Homo sapiens: one gene and its partners. The protein of the gene in region 3 purifies or fractionates together with the protein of the main gene of each other region. This does not show direct contact. Each region holds a gene or a part of one and is shown on either strand. Other genes may lie near its edges. The genes, in order: ARL4C, MSRB3 and DCUN1D4.

What was found.
Region 1: the proteins of DCUN1D4 (region 3) and ARL4C purify together in Homo sapiens (affinity purification with mass spectrometry; 2 studies listed by BioGRID and IntAct, with this or other methods). This does not show direct contact.
Region 2: the proteins of DCUN1D4 (region 3) and MSRB3 purify together in Homo sapiens (affinity purification with mass spectrometry; 2 studies listed by BioGRID and IntAct, with this or other methods). This does not show direct contact.

Annotation. Positions count from the first base shown.
Region 1 is NC_000002.12:234,493,886-234,502,616, reverse strand, and holds the start of ARL4C (ADP-ribosylation factor-like protein 4C), read left to right. Parts: upstream 1-5,535; 5' UTR 5,536-6,030; coding exon 6,031-6,605; coding exon of another isoform or gene 6,606-6,609; exon of another isoform or gene 6,610-6,780; coding exon 6,781-6,811; 3' UTR 6,812-8,731. UniProt on the Homo sapiens protein: Small GTP-binding protein which cycles between an inactive GDP-bound and an active GTP-bound form, and the rate of cycling is regulated by guanine nucleotide exchange factors (GEF) and GTPase-activating proteins (GAP).
Region 2 is NC_000012.12:65,463,683-65,468,283, forward strand, and holds the end of MSRB3 (methionine-R-sulfoxide reductase B3 isoform 2 precursor), read left to right. Parts: 3' UTR 1-3,225; downstream 3,226-4,601. UniProt on the Homo sapiens protein: Catalyzes the reduction of free and protein-bound methionine sulfoxide to methionine. Isoform 2 is essential for hearing.
Region 3 is NC_000004.12:51,908,445-51,916,320, reverse strand, and holds part of DCUN1D4 (DCN1-like protein 4), read right to left. Parts: intron 7,402-7,876; coding exon of another isoform or gene 7,346-7,401; intron 7,164-7,345; exon of another isoform or gene 6,869-7,163; intron 5,252-6,868; coding exon 5,147-5,251; intron 3,032-5,146; coding exon 2,929-3,031; intron 2,793-2,928; coding exon 2,737-2,792; 3' UTR 1-2,736. UniProt on the Homo sapiens protein: Contributes to the neddylation of all cullins by transferring NEDD8 from N-terminally acetylated NEDD8-conjugating E2s enzyme to different cullin C-terminal domain-RBX complexes which are necessary for the activation of cullin-RING E3 ubiquitin ligases (CRLs).

The DNA of each region.
Region 1 (8,731 bases), on a different chromosome or scaffold from region 3:
GTCATCCTGAGTGACCACACATTAGAGAGGGTGGCACTGGCAACACACCCCATCCTCCCTGCTGCACTGTAGAAAGCCAATAGGGTTTGACAGGGGCACAAAAGCGTGATTGTTTTCATCTCTCTGGGGTCCAGCCAAGTAAGCTTAATTAAATGAAAATAATAGCATTTCAGTTCACCTGCAGAGGTGGGAGAAGAGGAATGAAAGTAATCCAAGTTTCCATCAAATACTTCTTGGTTCATGGTGCAGCTCTCTAATCACCTGATATTTATTGTTAACTTGTTTTTTTTTTCCTTCACTGTAGCTATTAGAGTAGAAATTTAATTACTGTGATTGAATTATTAAAGGATTCAGAAATACCTTTTGCATACTAAGCCTTTTCTTCCCCCTGAACTGGAAGCTGGCACTAAGAACTTTTCTGTCACTTTGGTATGCCTGAGTGCTGACTTCCAAAGCTTTGAGTCTTAACATCCTTGACAAAGGTTCATTTAATACATGCCATGTAAATATTAGGGAGAGATGTAAAATAGTGTTATATAAGAATTATATTTGAAAATATTACTGATAGGAAAGATAATGGCTTCTATTTATTATTATTATTTTTTGAGATGGAGTTTCGCTTTTGTTGCCCAGGCTGGAGTGCAGTGGCGCGATCTTGGCTCACTGCAACCTCTGCCTCCCAGGTTCAAGCCATTCTCCTGCCTCAGCCTCAAGAATAGCTAGGATGACAGATGCCTGTCACCATACTCGGCTAATTTTTATATTTTTAGTACAGATGGGGTTTCACCATGTTGGTCAGGCTGGTCTCAAACTCCTGACCTCAGATGACCCTCCCACCTTAGCCTTCCAAAGTGCTGAGATTACAGATGTGAGCCACCATGCCCAGCCCAGATAATGGCTTCTAAAATTTTATATCTATCTCAGGAATGTAATAGAGATCGACAATTATTAAGGAAGACTTGAAGCGGGGGAGCCTTTTAGCTTTTTGATTTAAATTTTTTTTCTTGGAGAAAACAGCAACAACAACAACCATACAAAACACTAGCAGTGGTGATCATTGGGAAAATAAAAACCTGAATTGTTTCAGCCCTGTTGCTTAGCAAAATAAAAAATAAGGCACCCTGATTTTTTTTTCCTTAGAATTATAAACTTGAATGGCCAATAGAGTAGTGGATCTTTTTTATTTTCAGGCTTTGGACCACTTGAATGAAGCAGGAGCTTGCAGGCATCACAGATTTTCATTTATCTCCCCCCAGATCTACCGTCCCATCCACAAAACTTCCCTTGGCACCAGTGTCTTAGTGGCTTCCACTGTTACGTAGCCTGAGTCGGCGTTTCTCCTGGAGTTGAGGGGGTTGCACTGCAGTGATGGTGACTGGTTTGTCTAGCATGCCCTGGGGCTTCTGGAAGTATTGGTTTGGTTCTTCCTTAAGGAACCTCTCCTGACAGATAAAAGGCTTCAATCCTGGACCACCTGGCTTCAGGAGCTTCAGGCCTTGTCACTTTGTCTGCCAACTGGCCTCCTTCATTCTCGACTCCCAGCCCCATTCTCCATTTACAGCTGCTCATGCCTGCCTGCGAATTAGATGCAAAAATCAGTTTTCTTCCCTTCTCTGGTCTCAGCTGGGTTTCCTGGATGCTCTTTTCTGATCTCTTCCACCAATTGTGATTCTTTGAACAGTTCTCCTAGTAAAGCGACTTCCTGCTCTGCCAGGTTCCTGGCTCCCCTCTCCCAGCAGATAACCCACAGGTCTCACAGACAAGACCCACACTGGCATCAATGGCTCTGAGCTCTGAGCCCCAAGCAAAGCACCCATGGGCCCCTGGCACTTTCTCAGTTTAACCAGTAGGGCTCTATTCCTGCATCTCCATAGAGAGAAGAAAAGCAGGGGGTCACTTATCCATCATTCATTCCATAACTATGGACTGAACATTTGCTAAGCACTAGGCCAATGTGCCTCTGTAGAGCCCTTCATCTATTATCCGAGAAGCTCAGCAGAGGGCACTCCTGTATTATAACAGTTAAGCACCGGGGCAGTGAACCTGAACCCAGAGTTCCACAGCAGGTCTGCAGTGAGAACATGCAAATAACCCCACACTTATGCGCGCACGCGCGTGTGTGTATGTGTGTACACGTGTGCCCATGTTCTGGTCTTTATTTACTCATCATATTCAAGAATAAATGGGATGCTCCCTTTTGCATTTTAGGTTATTAGCCTTACTCAAGCAAAGATAATAATGCCATGATATATTGCTCATCGGATTCACTCAAAAGTCATTTTAATTGGTGGCACATTTTATTTCAAAGCCCTTAAAGGGAAAAAAAAGAGAATATTTTAGGATGCAATTTCAAAATTACTGCCAAGTTATTGCCTTCTGTTTGCTTGAAATAATTGAGTTCTTCTCTGGATGCAGTCATCTTGATGAAGAATAGAAAGGAGAGGACCTGAAATGTCACTGCTGCTGGAAGAGGAATTCATCTCAGGCAGACACAAGTACATGCTATTCTTTGAAAAAATCTCTCCTTCTGATTAATTAAAATGAAGTAAGTGCCACAGTGCAGCCAATATTTTCCACTCAGTGGAATTTAGCCATGATGTATGTCCATGAAGAAATAGGCTCAAAGTAGGCCTTACATGTCTGATATGAGTGGTAAACATTACCTTCCTTTTCATAATTCCAGTGTTTTTCAATAAAAATCCACATTTGAAGGAAAGTTACCAGTCGACTCAACCAAATGATATTTTTATGTGTTAGAAGTTAAATTATCAACTGTAAAATTAACTTATCACCTGGTGAGTGAAATTAGCAGGTAGAGTGGTTGCTATTCAATTATGGTGAGTTGCTGTTTAATGGCTGTGTTCTGGAAGGCTCTATTAATGTCTATTAATCTGTTTTTTCCTACTGGACAGCAGACAGCCCTTTATTGCTAAACCCCATCATGGTGGTGCAAAATGTGGAGGCTGCAGTCAAAACCACTGAGGCTCTTGGTAATAATTAGCATAGCACCAAAAAGATACATCGGATACTTTACTAAAATATCTCCTTCCTACCACCTTAAAACTTAAAGCAAGTCTTGACTAGGGGAAAAGGAAGTAACACAAAGGTAATCTGTGGAAGCCGGATGGAGAGGCTTCCAGTCTGATCTGTCTCTTTCCAAATGTCCAGGTCCCAGGCTACTAAACCAAAGGCTCATCTTGGGTTGGGGCTCAGCCTCGGCCCTGCCTGTGGCAGAGAAGAAAGAGAAACAAGAAACAGTCTCATGAGAAGCTGGCTATCTATGGGGCAGGCATTAAAGAGAGTCAAGAAAATCACTCCAAAAACACAAAATCCTGTCTCCCCAGGGTTCCCAATAACGGAAACATCATCATTATGAATTATGCCAACATATGTTGTTTCTGTTGCCTCACTAGAGTTGCTCTTTTGGTGACAGATCCTGGATTCTTCTTGGAGAACCACCCTTCCCGATTTCAACCCCTGGGCCACATCCACTGGTGTGTTCCCTCCTCCTGGACTGCAGTCCTTGATCCAGGGTGCGTGCTCCAGGCTTTGGTTAGAGTTACTGGGAAAGAGTTGTACCTTTTCCTTTCCAGGATCTAAACCAAGGATGTGAGTCCAAGGCTGCCAGAAGGAAAAAGAATCAACACAGGGGAACACGGAGGAGGACTGGAGAGACACCTGCTCGAAAGACTCCTTTTGAGCTCCTGGGTCTAGCCATGCCTGAAGAGGACCTTTATCCTTAACTTTTCAGTGATGTCAGTGAATACATTTCCATTTTTATTTAAAATGAAGTAAGTGGCACAGTGCAGCCAATATTTTCTGTTGAACTCTATCCTTCGGGTGGCTCACTTTATTCCTCATTGAAGGAAATAGCGTGTGGGTAGAGTGGGATGTGAGGAAGAGGGCAGGCAGGTGCCCAGTTTTGTGCATACAGACCCTTGGTCCTGGAGCAGGCAGTGGGCCTCTAGGTTCTGCCTTAGCCGTCACGGGCGCCTAGGCCTTGTTACCTCACTGGACAACGTTGGGTGGAATGATAGGCAGGGTCCTTTCCAGCCTGATACTTCGTTTCCAGCCCCAAATCCACTCAGTAGAGTGGATGGTCGCTCCGGCTGCCACCTTGGGAATTCCAAGGATAGGGGTGGTGGTGGCTTGTCCTTCCTTCTACAGGTGAGGTCTTCTCACATGCTTTGGTACCAACGATATCATATGTCTTTTCGTGGTTTGTGAACAGAAGGTGATAAAGTATTTCTCTAAAATTCTAGCTTTTATTCATAAATTCTTAGCATTTTCATTTTCTTCTCCCTTGACCCCGTTTCCGTCGTTTCTGTCTCATAAGCTAGAGCTGGGAAGATGCGGTCGCCCATGCTGCGGCCTGCTGTCTCCTGCGGAGCAGCTCTCCCCAGATCTGTGTGTTTGCCATAATATACTCTCACTTTTCTCCGCACCCAGAGAGGATATACATTTGTTACATGTTTACAAACCAGAATAAAACCATTGAACTGAGGTGACAGGAGGTGGAACCCGTGGAATATCAGTGTTTGTAACCCACTGCGCCACCAGCTCCAAGCTGTAGACACATTTTCTTTCAGCCCCCGGGGCTGGTGTTGCCATTTCTGCGGAGTAGTTCACCTGCGGGCAGGTGGTTCTCAGTTCCCAAAGTCGGGTGGCAAGGGGTGCTCTCCCGAAATGCTGACGCTTCCCCTGGGATGTCAGCAGAGTCGATGCGGACGAAATGAGGTAGCCCAGGCGTGTCTGGGAGGGTGAGCTGTCCGAGCTACTTGGGGCAGGTAGGTCTTCTAATCCCCCATCGCGGCCTAGGTCCGACCCTGCCCCAACCGCCGCCACCGGGCAAGAAAGGCTGGGCCTCCAGGGTGCCCTGGGCACAGGCCTGGGCTCCGGAGGGCGGCGCTGGCCGGGTGCAGCCCCCTGGAACCCAGGCAGGAGGCGAGCCTGGGCGTCACTGGGGGCCGGGGCCGGCGACAGCCGCGGCGCGAGGGTGGGAGGGGACGCGCCCGGCTGGATCCAGAGCGCAGGCTGGCAGCTCACCGAGGCCAGCCCCGTCCCGTCCCTTCTGGGGTTTGGAGGCCCCAGCCTCGCCGCCCTCACTCCCCAGAGCGGCGCTCTCCCAGTCACCCTGGGGGCCGCCCTGCCCCGCCTCGCGCCCACAGAGCTGGGACCCCGGGACCCACTCCCTCAGGCAGGCTGCGTCGCCCACGGCTGCGGCCCGGAGGGGCAGGGGGCGGGCTAGGACCCGGGCGGGGATTCCGGGAGCCGAGAGCTATTTTTGCAAACGCGTCAGCCGCTGGGGAGGAAGAGCCGGCTCCGCGCCCATTGTGTCTGCGCGGCGCGGCGCGGGAGGGGCCGGGGGGCGGCGGGGGGCGGCGGGGACGCAGCGAAGCGCGCGAAAACGGCCGGCTGGGCGGGGAGGACCGCGCCTGACCCCCGGCGGCGGGCGGGGCGGGGCCCGGGGCGGGTCCGGGGGCGGGTCCGGGGCGGGGCGCGAGGGGGCGGGTCCGGGAGCTCTCCGGCCGCTGCAGGCTGGCGGCTGCTGCGGCGGCGCGGGGACTGTGAGGCTGCCGAGCGGACAGCGACTCCCGGGGAAGCCCGCGCTCCGGGAGCGGGAGCGGGAGCAGGAGCAGGAGCAGCGCCGTCCCAGGCCAGAGGCGAGCGCCGGGCGCCGGGAGAGCGGAGAGCCCGGGCAGCTGCCGGAGCGCGGGGGCGCGGCCCGAGGAAACCACAGAGCGAGCCCAGGCCTGGGGAGGGCGCCGAACATCTGAGGCGGCTTCGCGGGAGACAAAGCCGCGCGTAGAGACGCGATGCCCGCCGATCGCGAGCCCGGCCGGCGAGGGCGCGGGGACTGCGGCGTCTGAGCGCGCCAAGCCGTGCGCCCGCGGGGACGCCGAGCCCCGGGGCCGGTGCGGGCGGCGGCGGGCGGGGCCCAGGTGCGCCCGGCCGCGTCGGGCCCGTGACTGCTCGGGGGGCGGCGCCCTCCCGCCGCAGCCGCAGTGGCTGGCGCCGCAGCCAGGAGCCATGGGCAACATCTCCTCTAACATCTCGGCCTTCCAGTCCCTGCATATCGTCATGTTGGGCTTGGACTCGGCCGGCAAGACCACGGTGCTCTACCGGCTCAAGTTCAACGAGTTCGTGAACACGGTGCCCACCATCGGCTTCAACACCGAGAAGATCAAGCTGAGCAACGGCACGGCCAAGGGCATCAGCTGCCACTTCTGGGACGTGGGCGGCCAGGAGAAGCTGCGGCCGCTGTGGAAGTCCTACAGCCGCTGCACGGACGGCATCATCTACGTGGTGGACTCGGTGGACGTGGACCGGCTGGAGGAGGCCAAGACGGAGCTGCACAAGGTGACCAAGTTCGCCGAGAACCAGGGCACGCCGCTGCTGGTCATCGCCAACAAGCAGGACCTGCCCAAGTCGCTGCCGGTGGCAGAGATTGAGAAGCAGCTGGCGCTGCACGAGCTTATCCCGGCCACCACCTATCACGTCCAGCCGGCGTGCGCCATCATCGGCGAGGGCCTCACCGAGGGCATGGACAAGCTCTATGAGATGATCCTGAAACGCAGGAAGTCCCTCAAGCAGAAGAAGAAGCGGTAATGCGCCCGGAGCGACCGGGGAGCGAGCGAGTGCGTCAAGAAAGAATGAATGGATGGATGGATGGTTGGATGGATGGATGGATGGATGAGCGAGAACCCGCGCCCGCGAACAAAGAGCGAACCAAAGCGATGCTTCGAATTTTTAAAACGGAATCTCTGCACCCAAATGCAGGACTGGTGACTTAAGGAGCTGCGAAGTCTGATTTACCGGCCTACTCTCGACCTGCCCCCCACCCCCAGCTCAGGGGACCTTTTGTCTGAACGCCAGAGCTACTGACCAGGTCGGGGGGCCGCGGTGGGGAGTGGAAGAGCCGGTCCTGCTGTCCGCCCTCCCAGCCCCAGGTGGAAGGCTCAGTTGTCGGAAAGACAAAAGCGATTTCTTCCCACTCCTGCAGGGCCAGAAGTTCAGGCTGCCCCGCCTCCACTGGGGGATCGCACCTGTGAATTACCTGAGGTATGCATTTCCCAGAACCGTGGGCGTACCCACCTTGGGGGGCATGTTGGTTCTGGGGGGACCACCTCTCCTTGCATTCAGGGGCTGTGAAGCTGAGTAATTTTCGGTCACAGGGCAGGCCCCTGTTGAAATTTCATTTGTCCTGCTCTGGGCCCAAAGGTGGTGGTGGTTTGGGTCATCAGAGGACTGCCTGGGACGGTTCAGCGGGCACGGAGCGCTGTGCTGGCCTGGCTGGGGATGGCCGCGGAGGTGCCCTTTTCCTGGTGCTTTGTGGTGGCTGCAGAAGACCAGTTTTGTTGAGAACTGCTTTTCAGCCTGGAATCAGACATCTTCCAGATGGTTTGGACCCTGTCCATGTGTAGGTCATTATCACACAAAGAGACCAATAAAAATAAAAAAAATAAAAAAAAAAAAAGACGAACTATTGGAGGTGGTGGCCAATGATGCATTTACTGTTTGCAGGATAGTTAAAGGTGTTTAAAGGGTAAGGCTTTTGGTGTAAATGCTGGATGGGGTGTGTGTGTGTGTGGATATAGGGACCTCCCTCTGTACTGTGTACTGTGTAATCGGCATTAATACCTAGACTCATATGTATGGAATTTTAAATTCTCTTAGCCTACTGATTGGTTTGGATGAGCACACCAGCTGCAGGTGTGTGCTGAATTGCAAGATGGTATTTTTTTTTTTAACCAAGGGATGTCTCTTGTAATACTAACCGCGTGATAATGGGTTTTCAGACATGATGAAAAAAAAAAACTTTTACAAATGAATACTTACCTTAGAAATATTCACCTTAGGAAAAAAGACTTTGCTCTGCCCTTTTATATTCCTTTATGCTGCAAGTGGTGACATGTTCAGATTTCTAATTTGGTTCATTGTGGCCTATCTGGTTTAAGTCTTTCATTAAAAATGTCTCGTTAGAGTATTTGATGTCATGCACCAAAAAAATAAAACCCCACCTTGTTGCAAAAGCTGACCTCGTTGCATGGAATTAAAAGAGAAGGAAAAACACAAGGATGAAGTCTTTCCGAATTCATTCTTGTGGGAACTGGCCTTCGGAGCCAGCCAGCACTTTGGGCAAATGCAAACAACAATGAGTGCTTGAGATAAAAGAAAGTGTGACGTCATGGTCACTGGTACTCAGGCACTTCACAGTTTACTTGAAAGAGGCTTTGGAAAATAGATAAAGTGAAAGAAGAATAAATACATATTTTTAATAATGTAATTTTAAAAATCCTTTATAATCAGGACTGAGTCTTGGTTTGCAGAAGCTGTCACTTACCCTGAAACACAGTATCAAAAGGGAAACTTAAAACATACTGTTTGATTTTTTTATTTCCTCTTACAATCCATGTTTTCAGGTAGAATTATGACTTTCCCCCCATTGTTACACATTTCTTTACAAAGGAGGCCTGTAGAAATTGGACACGATCATGCTTGAGCATGTGAGTTAGTCAAATTATGAGTCCCTGCCTATTGTCCATTACACACCGAATGTTAATTTAAGAACCAGAGGCAGAAGTTCTGGCTTCCTGCTTGAAACCCAATTCTTATATGAAATTTTTTAAAAGCAGAAACCTAGCAGCCCATCTGCTTTTTCTCTTTTGTCGGTGTATTTGGTACCCCTCCAATGCTGGTCTTTTTGTAGAAACTCAGTAGAGAAAGTCTA
Region 2 (4,601 bases), on a different chromosome or scaffold from region 3:
CAGTGTAGAGACCAGAGCTGGGCAGTGCAGGGCATGGAGACCTGCAAGACACATGGCCTTGAGGCCTTTGCACAGACCCACCTAAGATAAGGTTGGAGTGATGTTTTAATGAGACTGTTCAGCTTTGTGGAAAGTTTGAGCTAAGGTCATTTTTTTTTTTCTCACTGAAAGGGTGTGAAGGTCTAAAGTCTTTCCTTATGTTAAATTGTTGCCAGATCCAAAGGGGCATACTGAGTGTTGTGGCAGAGAAGTAAACATTACCACACTGTTAGGCCTTTATTTTATTTTATTTTCCATCGAAAGCATTGGAGGCCCAGTGCAATGGCTCACGCCTGTGATCCCAGCACTTTGGGAGGCCAAGGCGGGTGGATCACGAGGTCAGGAGATGGAGACCATCCTGGCTAACATGGTGAAACCCCGTCTCTACTAAAAATACGAAAAATTAGCCAGGCGTGGTGGTGGGCACCTGTAGTCCCAGCTACTCAGGAGGCTGAGGCAGGAGAATGGCGTGAACCCGGAAGGCGGAGCTTGCAGTTAGCCGAGATCATGCCACTGCACTCCAGCCTACATGACAATGTGACACTCCATCTCAAAAAATAATAATAATAACAATATAAGAACTAGCTGGGCATGGTGGCGCATGCATGTAGTCCCAGCTACTCCTGAGGCTCAGTCAGGAGAATCGCTTGAACTTGGGAGGCGGAGGTTGCAGTGAGCTGAGCTCATACCACTGCACTCCAGCCTGAACAGAGTGAGATCCTGTCAAAAAAGAAAAGAAAAAGAAAGCAGCATTCAAATGTAAGACAACTGTAAAATATTGAGCCCCACTTGGTCTAAAATTCAAAAAGAAGAACGCCTGTCCATCGCCTTTTTATAAGTCCTTCTCTCCACACCTAAAAGCAGCTGCAGCTGGAAGGGCACAAATTCCACTGTGTAAAATAAAATATTAGGGGCAACACACTTCATCAAGGCAGCAGGAATGAGAGAGAGCAGAGAAGATCAAGGATGAAGTCTTGGGTACTGAAAAATTCAGTGCTGGGCAGAAAAACTGACAGGGCAGTACAAGTAACAAACAGAATCCAAGTGGGGTGGCCCTTGTGCACAGAGCTCCAGGTGACCTCTGGAGAGACATGGGCATTCACATGGAAAGCTAAAACGGAAGCTCAAGTTTCATACTCAACATAATCTTCTGTGTGACAAAGGACAAGCCATGTAGCCTCTCTGTGCCTATTTCTTCATGCATAAACTGGGACTCATAATATTTGTAAAATGTATTGATACTCTCAGGGCAAATTCACTATATTGCTATACAGTTGAGATCAGTGTTGTAAAATTAAACTGATCTGGTTCTAATTGCCTCAAAGGCCAAAGCCCAGGCATTTGAAATGGAAAGAAGCAGAGAGGAGGCTGACTTAGCTGATTGGTATGGAAACAGTTGGGCCAAGAGCCAGAATTTCCCTTTGTAGCAACACGGCTAGTTTTACTTTGAGAAGCTCTGCTCAGCTGCTTTATAACATTAAGTCTGGCGGAATGGATGTCACTGTGCACAATAAAGTTTTCACAAGTATAAACAATGGTGATGTAAGTCAACATTGCTGTAGCCAGGTGTGAAGGTTGTATGGTGTGTGACGAATGTACATCATGTTTGTAGGTTTGGATGCTAATCTTGAATTGTAGTTTAAAAAATACGTATTTTTGTAACTCTTTGAAAGTTTATGAAGACTGACAGCTTTCCTTGTAAGCACTAAGAGAAAAAAAAGAAAGAGGGACATTTGACAATTTTAAAGAAACAACAAGAAATTAGAATGAAAATCTGTGACAAACAGCGTCAGTGTGGCCATGTCCACATTCCTACATGTCTCTCTCTACAAGCACCTCTCTAAGAAGCCTGACATCCCGGTGGACTCTTTATAGTCATGTACACTTGATTCCAGATGAGCTCTGGTCTTATCTGGATGCTCAGATAAGAGGTTTCTATCTGAGCATCCAGATGTTCCCTCAGGTTCCAAGACATTTCACCCCAGGCCCTGGGTTCACTCTGGAATTCGTAGGCTTCACGTCTCTCTAGAAATGACGTGTAAAATTTAAGACCAGACCTCAGCCATCAGCGTCCAGACCATCCTAGAAGTCTTTCCCAATCTCACAGAGAAAGCCCTAGTATTTCCCAGTGACCCCAGGATTCCACGTTGGGGTGGCCAAAGAAATAGGTCTCTCAGGGCTTTGCCACAGCCTCCAGCCCATCCTTCAGAGGCACACACAGCACCTCTCGGCTGCTCCAGCTCTGTAGGATAGCCTCCCCTGGGGTCCGTGGGACGCGGGCCACAGTGTTGAGGTAGACAAGGAGGATCAGTGAGAGGCCTCTTCCCTCTCCACAGAGACTGGATTGTCATTGTTCCTTCATTTATATCGTAGGGCTTAACATTTCACTCAAAAAAAAGCCCCTCTTTTTCTAATCCTTAGTCTTTGTTTCAAGGAAAGCCAGTTTTTCTTCTACCACATTTTCCAGGATCGACTTTAAGAAAAATGCAACATCTATTGAAAAAAAGTGGGGTGTATGCATGTGGTTTAATTCCAGATTGCTTTTGGGTTTAAGTGGTATCAAATTTCAGTATATTTCTGTCTTATGTGAAAGAAATATATTACTAAAACGTCAGTGAGCAATAATGTCAGCTGTCAAGCACTAGATTTATTTTTGCAGGATATGGAGTGCAATGAACTGAGTCAATATGGCAAGGTGTATGTGATCTGTGGGAGTTATGCCATTTAACATAGGAAGTGCATGGGACTTTCCCTCTCTGCACTCCAGCTCTTACTGTACCATTAGAAGATGCAGAATTCTGTTGGTGTGCAAAAAGTATAGCCTTACATTCAAGCAGAATGGATCTGAAGAAAGCAGCAATATCTGTTACTAGAGAACATTCCCATGTGTTTAAACTCTTCACTTCTTAGATGCATTTAAATTCTTAATGCAAATGACGTAGCAATTTGAAAACTTCTCCGTATTACTTGTGTTTAAAATGTCTTGCTTTAAATACAAAACAAATGGTAAAGGGGATTATCTTTTGTTTAGATGGTTAAATATTATTTTTGCCTTAGATAGCTTTGTAATAATTTTTCTCCAGACAGTTCAACACTTTTGAAAAATGACATGAATTTTCATTAAAAACCCTTTTCCTATGTTTATTGTATACAAGAATTATGCAATAAAATTTCTTTATAAAAATATTTTCTTCTTTGATTCCTGAAGACTCCTTTTATTTTCAGCACAGATACATGGACTGGAGTTTGTAGCAGACTGTTCTGTTTGCCTCCTTAACCAGCTGACAAGTCTGTAGTCTATATGGAGAGCCTTTCATCTGATGCAGTCTTTGGAAGTTGGGTCTCTTACAGTAGGGTCAAGTCCAACTCTCCACACCACAGGCCCTGGGAGAGGCCTCCAGGGATCTGAAAGACTGGAGGAAAGGGAAACATTTGCAGAATTACTCAACCTTCACCTCACCTCAGCAAAATCTTCAGCAGCTTGTGTATGTTTCTTGCTTAAAATATGGATTTGGGAGTTCCACCATAAAACTCTGTGGGTAAAAATGCAGGAATGATACCACGCTGATGCCTTGGCTTCTGTTAAAAAATTTGACAGGAAACTTACACTATCATTGAGGGTTGTTCTCTGTGGAAGTATATTAGGAGCTTTCCACTGCTTACAGATGATTTCACTGATAAAAGCCATCTCTACAGATAAGTTTTGGTATTGTATTATTTGTTGTTGAAATGTTGAGTTGTTTTGTATTGTTGATTTATTTACTTTAGGAGGCAGAAGTGGGATGATGAAGACTTTTGTTCTTCAGCCAATTCTTTAAGTCATACTCCTGGTATCTTAAAATTCACAGGCCAGCAACTTTATGTAGTATACCTTAGAGCACTGCTTTTCATAGTGTAGTCCTCAGACACTGAGGTATCAGCATCACCTGGGAACTTGCCAGAAATACAAGTTAATCAAAAGTTCTGGGCTGGGGCCTTAGCAATCTGCATTTTAGAAAGCCCTCCATGTGATTCTTGTGCTTAACCACTGCCTTGGAACTTTTAGTGAGAAAACTTCAATTAGTATTAATTTTAAAAGCATTTATATCTGACCCTCGAAAACGACTTTTTTTTCATCAGTCCTTTTCTTTCTATAGGGGTGGGTGGATAGTTTTTCCAAAATGTCATGCCTTGTAGCGCTTCTCGTCCCTCACTGCCCATTTGTCTTGTCCAGGAGGACTAGTCTGTCCTCATTCACTAGCACCACTTTAATTCCTATTAGCATTTCTGGACTGAGCCTGGGCTGCCCAGTGGTGCTTCCCAGTGCCTTTCTAGACCACAGGATGTCCATGGCAGGGTTCATCACAGTAATTCCAAGAATTAGAGAGCAGACTTCAGTGTATAAATTTACATATCACCTTTCTCATCTCTTCTATTTTCTTATACTTCCTTTCAAAATTATCATCATTTTTTTTAACCATTTAAGATATTTCTTCAAAGGTGCCATGTACCCAAATCTTCAACTCTTTCTTTTTGTCAGAAAACTGCTGTTACCTAGATCTTAACAACAAAACGACTTTTGG
Region 3 (7,876 bases):
TAATTCAGAGTTCATGCTTCAAAAAAGGTGCATGTAACATTACAGTGGATGTTTGAGGCAAATCAAATAATACAATTTCTGACCTACTTCAGCAGTAAACATCTAAAGGTTGTATTCCATGACAACAGAGTATTGCAATGTGGAGTTCGAAACACAATAGAAAAAGAGAAAGGGTTGTAGACTTAGGTACTAAAGAAAACCCAGATGAAGGCACCCTAATTTATTCAACATTAGCCAGTAAATAAGTGCTTGATGATTGTTCAGTTTTGTGCAACTTAGAGAAGTTTTTAAGAAAATGTATCATATTACTCTGTCTGACCCCTTTTTCTCCCCTTAGAAATAAATATATAAAATCAAGACAATCAAGGGTAAGCACTCTGCCGCTCAGCAGTCAAAGAGGTTTATTTTTCAAGGCAGTTTAAAGATTATTTGGAGTTTTCTTAATATGCAAGATTATCCCTTTGGAATACTTACTTTCTTATCATACATAATGCAATAGTTTTTACGCAGTTTTTTCCCTACCATCAAAATGTTGATTGTGGATTAACTGTAACATCTCCCTCCTGTAACAATCCTCTCATTTTAGAATTAACTGTGCTTATCAGCATTTTTTAAAAATCTCTATATTCTAACATAGTGTTTAAAATAACTTCATCTATGATTTATATTTGCTTTAAATAAAGCTACAGTTGATCAGATTTAAAGAACTGTATGACCTGTTGCCTTTAAAGTGTAACTTTTTAACTTTATGGAATAATTTTGAAAATGAATCAATTCTTCACAGATCCAAACCTGCCTAGGCCAGTCACCACTGCAAAACAAATGCATCCATCACATCAGTATTAATAGCTGTTGCTTGCCATTAACATTTCCTGTTCTTTTCAGATATTGGTTTATGCAAACTGGTATTAATTTTTAAGGTTGAAAGTGAATCTACAAATAAGGAGTGGTTAAGTATGCTTAATCACTACAGGGTTTTTTAAACTTCTGGTTTATTTCACAGCAAATAAAACCTTTCGTTTGGTAGAAAAAGAAAGTAGTTGCATTCTACTATATCATGATTTTGTATACACACACACTGTATATACATACAAAATTTCTTTCTTTGGTGGTTTAGTTAGGGAAAAAATATGAAAATGTGAACACTGTTTGCAAAGAAATGGTAAAATAGTGGTCAAGAGTAGCACTGTCTGTGTGCTTTATTCACTTAATGCCATTTAAACGATCACATGTCACCCGAAAGAAGTTTTAGCCAGAGTTCCAAATAACCCAAACCTTTTTCCAGTCATCACATGTTCAAATCACGGATCTTGCTGACCACGACAGCATTTACTTGTTCAAATGCACCATTACCTTTTACTCACTCAAATCATTAGACTTTTGTGTTTTCACAGAACTTTAGGGACTGAATTAGTCATTCAATAGCACCAGATAGTTGGGGTGAAAACATGTCATCTCTATATTTCCTCAAGAATGGCAAAAAAAAAAAAAAAAAAAGACATAAAATACAAACCTAAAAATACCATTCTGTTTATTCTTGTTTCCTCATCCACAAAAATAATGGCTATTGCCCTTCTGTACAAATAACTCAGGTAATGAAAAGTGGCCCCTCTAGGACAGGTCCTAGCATGTACTGGGTTAGCTCAATGCTGGTGGTTTCTTGTCCACTGCCTGCAATGGACATGCTGCCAGGAAAAGCCTAGCATGAAACAAACAAACAAGGAAAACAAAACAGCTCTCACTTATAGTATGCTTGTTTTCTCAAAAGGCTGGAAAATTACATACCATGAAAGCTTAACTGAAAATTCAAGCCACAACTAGAAGTGCGATGCAGTTATAAACAGCCAGCAAAACCATGAGGTTTTCATTGAGGAGGTGAAATAAATTTTACTTAGAGTGGCAAAGAAAGCATTAGCAGATCAATCACTGGCTAGAAGAATGCAAAAGGAAAAAAAGAGAACAAACAAACAAAAAAGTTAAAGAATGTTTATAAGAGTTTAAATCCCATTCTTTTAAGAAAAGAGGTGCAATTTGAATTTGTTCATTGGTACCTATATTCAAGCTATTATAGTTTTAACACTAAAAAATAAACAACTTATACACCTTGCATGGTAGAAATGATTTGTGGCATGTTACATATCTATATGTTCAAATAATTATAACTCATCATTTTAAAACACTAATATTGTTAAGTATACCAAATGATATTTGGCATATGCCTCTAAAAAGTTATGACTCCTACCTCCTTCCAGAAGTTGGCCTCTTAAACAGTAAGGTTAATTCTGGCAATGTTTGTTCATGGTAACAGTTTTCTCTTGTTTTCTGAAATGCTACATAGGAGACCAAATAAAGTATAATTGGTTCATTCAAAAAAAGGGACTAGAAATGCCACAAAATTATTTTTACAATACATTTTTCAGAAATAATCTCTAGGTGAACCTTTTTCCTTTTATACACATATACAAAATTTAAACAGCAATATACACATAATCACAGTGAGGACGTTGGCAAATTCACCAATCTGTAGTGTAAATACAAACTGCAAAGCAGCCTTCCAAGAGAACAATGCCACACAGCAAGCAGAGCTGGCCAATTCAATAGCAAACACCAACATGTCCCTGCGAAAGGGAAACAGTGCAAGAGAAGCAGCATGCGCTTTGATACAAACAGCAATTTATGGCTAATGGGTGACAAAACTGTGGTAACAGTGACTCTCTCGCTGCTATGCATAAAGTCCTAGGACATCTGTTTGTCTTTATACCACTCCACAAACTCGTCCAACAAAACTGGCCCTGGAGAGAAAGAGAGAAACAGTAGTAATAATAATAATAATAACAATAATAATAATAGTAATGTAGCTGAGGCTTTTCCCAATGAGGATGATATAGAAATGTACACGAATGGCAGAATGGTAGCGGCAGTACTTACATGCTCCATCTTCATCATAGTTGCTGAGGTCAAGATTAATTGTTCTGCTAAACTCTAGGACATTGCACCACTGGTCTTTATTAATAACTTTGTATTTTGATTGCTGATGGAGGGAAAAGTAATATGAATTACTGACACTTAAAATGAACAAATGGGACGGTTTCAATTGCTTTATGAATCAACTTAATTAAGTTCATGTAAGGTTAACTCTTTCTGTTTGAGGTTTGTTAAGCACCAATCTAGGAGGATGGTGAGGGAGAGCAAGAGTAGAATTTAAGATGACAATTGTCATTACAAAAATATGACAGGGTCTCAATACAAAATGGAAAGCACATCAAAATAACATGATTATATATCCCCAGAAGTGAAAATTCTAAACTGCAAAAGCCATTTTATATAAAATGCAGATAATATCTACTTCATAAAGATATTATAAGAATTAAAAGAGATCATTTACTAATTTATGTGAAGCACTTCATTCAGTGTTTGGCACAAAGTAAGTGCTAAATAAAGAGTAGCTCCCATTAATATAACCCCTGACATAACCAGCACTGCCCATGGCCAAGCCTTCGGCTTAAAGCACATGCAGCAGCAGGTTACTTGACGAGATCCGGTAAGTGCTGCAAGTGGTCTCAAAATTAGGTGTTCTTGTCACAGAAAAAAATTACTGTTCTAATAATTCAAAACTCGAATCTGATCATAAAAGAAGCTAGAATAGCTGTGAAATCGTTTTTCTATTCCTCTTAGACGAGAAATTTGCCATGTGTCTATTTAAAAATACAGTATCCCTGTATGAAGATTCATAAATAAAATCCAGAACCAATGATTTTTAAATCTTCCCCACTAAAATCAGAAACATAGTAAAACAATACAAGTACATAAAAAGCAAAGAGAGTTGAGTCAATGGTTTTGAGGATGCAAACACAAGAAAAGCTGAAATGAGAGGAATACTGTCTTTTTTAAAGAAAAATGCAAACTAATGTAAGAGAGAGAACAAAGCACAGACTACAAGTTTAACTTTCTAAGCAGGTAAAAGCAAAAACCAGTCCTGAAACAGTTGATGATGCACCTGGAATTACACAAAGTCAGATTTCCTCCAGGCCAGGTCTTCCAGCTTAAGACTCTTTACACACAGGTGTAAATCCAGCTAAACTCTCTGAGAACAGGGAACTATTTCTATTTATTTTTCCAAATAATGCTAACTCATCTCAAGGGATTGTCAGAGAAATTAGAACAGACCATATGTCAACATGGACTATTTTGGGTAAACAGATACTTACGTAAAACTAGTTTTTAAATTTTTGAGGAGTCCCACTTAGTAATGTTAAAAGAAATTTTTAATAACAGTTCTCAAAGAATCCTATCAGATATTAAAAATATTCTGGACCATTACATAAAGTAAGTTGTGAGAAAGATTATTCAAGAGTGAAGCCAGAGTCATCTTACGGCCCAGCATTTTCTCAAAGACCCAACACCCTCATCCTTGCAAGCAAAGGACACTTTTTAGAAGGGCTTGGGGCAGGAGGGAAAGGAGGATGCCATATATGACAACCCAAGTAACTCAAACTTGTATCCCATATACTTCCAGGTCCCACAGAATGACACTTCAACAAAACCAGTAGCTCAGAATTTCTGATCATCAATACTTAAAAGCACACAAACAATGATGGAATAAAGTGCTGGATTGTTCTGATACTGATCTGAAGACAATTTAAACTGAAGGAGATATTGTCAGTCTGCCTAATACTTAGATTGATCTAAGGTCCTCAAGTTACTTGGTGACAAGAGTAGATAAGAACATACTACAAACTAATTTTGGTAAGAAGGCAGATGACTGTCTTTTAAACCTCTGCTTAATAAAAGTGGAAGTTCATCTAAAGTCAAAAGAAAGTAAATCTTCTTTTTCTATTGTTACAAAGAACAGAAAATCTAAACAAAAGTGAAGCTTTAAAATGGGGATGAGAAAAGAGAGAAAAGGACAGAGCTGTGGCTGTTTCGGATGCATTTTTAATGTGGAATGAAGCAACACAACATTAAACGCATACACAGATGCACTCCAAGAAGATAGGTAGCTGCTGACTGACAGCAATTATGTCACCGTAATTCCTACATAGGCAGAAAAGTACAACAAACAAAAAATTACATACAACGGGTGAATAAAGTTATTTGGTAGTTCCAAGCAAGCAAACATACATTTCATAAAACAACAATTTGGTACCTCTAAGAATTGGTGAAAAACTGGAAAAAGGGGCCAGATTTTTCCTAATAACAGTCCCAACATGCACTTGGCAGTGTTTATGTCTAGGCTGCGCTGGTCCTTTTCCTGTTTAACAAACAAAAACAAGGATGAGCCAGATGCCCCCAAATAATAAATTCCAATAATTGCAAATGTGTATTCACTTCAACAGGAAATTAGTAAACAGCTCATTTATCATACACCTTAAAGACCCTGCATCCAGACTAAGGTTAGGGAGGGGAGGTAGTCAAACACAATGGAAGGCTTGGGCATTACGATATTATATAAATTTACTGTGAGAAAGATTTATGTCAACTGAATGATCACCCTAATGCAAAATCAATTAGTTATGTCGTAGCAGTTTCTACAGGCTTTTCATGGGATTAATAAAAACTTGTAACTCAATCACTTGCTTGTTTGATATTTATGATAATTATCAAAATCCTAATTGTTGACCATAAAGCCTATAACTCAACGGAGCTTAAAGGTTTTGATGCCTATGATTAGGAATCAGGTTTCCTTAATAAAAACGAAATCAATTTGATTTCATTGATAAATATTTTTCTTGAACCTAAACATGCTGGAATTGACTTCAGCTCATACCAAATGCTGGGGCTCTGAAGTGTCTCTCTAAATCAGAGGATAGATTCATCTACCCACTCTGGTGGAAGGCAGGAAGTCTATCAATACAGTCCTTCAATAGACAGATAGATAGATAGATTTCTTAGACGTAAATTTCCTAGTAAAATACTCCTAACTAGTAACCAAGTGAAAGACAACATTTCATAAGGACACCAGAAAAAAAGATAAGAACATAAACCTAAATAAGGGCAGGGTAAGCTCATTCCACTTACATTTGCAATTAAGGATCCTAATTTCTCATTTCCGTCTTTCTTATATGCTTCCATTCCAGAACTACAAGCGGTCAGTTTCCATGGAAAGGAATAGAGGGCCTGGGACCATAAGCATACCTTACATATCCAAAGCTAGCCTCCATGTGTTATCTTAACTACAGTGGAAATTTGTAAAAGTAGTTTTTTACAAAGGGAGAAAGTGCCTGGCTAGCCCAGTGCAGTGGAATCTAAATGTTCAAATTAAGGGATGATGCTGTGACCACCACCCTAAGCCACATATGCAGCCATATATACCTCCTGATAAAATAAATCATCACTGCAAGGACGCTTAACAGTGAGGTACTCTTTAGTATACAAACCATTTCTAGCCATGACCCTGAATTGGGACTTAATACAGCAAATGTAAGGGCCTCACTTAACAACAACAATCAAGGTAGATGAAGACAAGGAAACTTGTTGCCTAAGGAAGATGTGCAATAGATCTGGCCTTTTGGTCTCAGTTGTGAAGTGTAACGACTGTCCATGAATAGACCAGGTCAGATGGCTCCACATCACCCTTCTTTCAGAGGTCACATAACTTAAGTCTGATGAGGGCAGGTGTATCCCAGTTCCACAGTTCTATGCAAACAGGTGGGACCTCCTTTCCACAGGGTTCTCTGCCTGTCCCTTGGCCATATGTATTGTCCTGCTCAGGGCTGCAGTACGCACTCCCAATGGAGAAGAGGACAGGAGAAGAGGTGATCTAGAGACTGCCTGCCTTTTGCCAGACAAACTGCATTGGTTTGTTGTGTTTCAAGGGCTTACACTTCTGTGATGACACTGTGCAAGCAAATGGAAAACTTCCTCTTACCCTGTAACACAGGTGTGGCAGACGGCAACAGCACACCATACTATGAAGCAATCCACAAGATAAACGAGTAAACTGTTGAGAAACACACGCGGCACCACAGGACTCGGCCAAAGTCCATTTGTTGAACAACAGCTTATGCAGCACTGGGCTGACAACACTGGCGCTCTGGAAGAGTTTTCCCTTTGCAGAGTTTGTAATCATTCACTAAACCCCAAATCTCTAGTCTTGCTGTGATATATATTGTGCCTTCTTCCACCATCATCAATACCTATGTCCCCGTCACAATGGACATACACTAAGGTGACAAAAAAGAAAAAAAAGATACAAAAGACCTGGACAGACTCTTTGCAACAATATAATCATCTGACAAACTGATGATCATGAAGGATTTCAATGCATATGTTTGGCAGTGATGCCAAAACACGGAGGAAAGGCATCAGACTCACAGGACTGGAAAGCTGAACAGCACTCACTTACTCCTGCTCTGCAAGGGTGCCAGCCAGCAGCTCGCAATCACTAACACCATCTTCGGCCTAGCAAATAAGAGAAAGATATTATGGATGCACTCACAATCTGAATAGTGGCATCTCACTGATAACCAACATTTCCTGTGAGTGGACTTGTGGCTATGTGCAAATGACCATGACTGGAAACACTAAAAATTCCCGGGAACAACAGTCGAGAGCTCCCACAGCAAACATCTACTAAACATCAAAATTGGAGACACTCGCAGGGGGTTCTCTGACAACAATGATCCTAATGACATTCTCTGCAAAGGGGTTCCCAATTAAAAGTGAAATGAATCTCCCAGGATGCTATCAGGCAGCCATCAACTTTATAGGCATTTAAAAAAAAAAAATCACCGTAACAAATTCAAGGAGTAAAGACATCCAAAAGCTCTTTGTAAGAAATTAAAATTATACGCTGTCAACACAAATCCTGTGACTCTCTGCTCATGGAGCACCAAGGAGCAAGGGGCAGACCAATAGATTCCTGGATCCCAAGGTC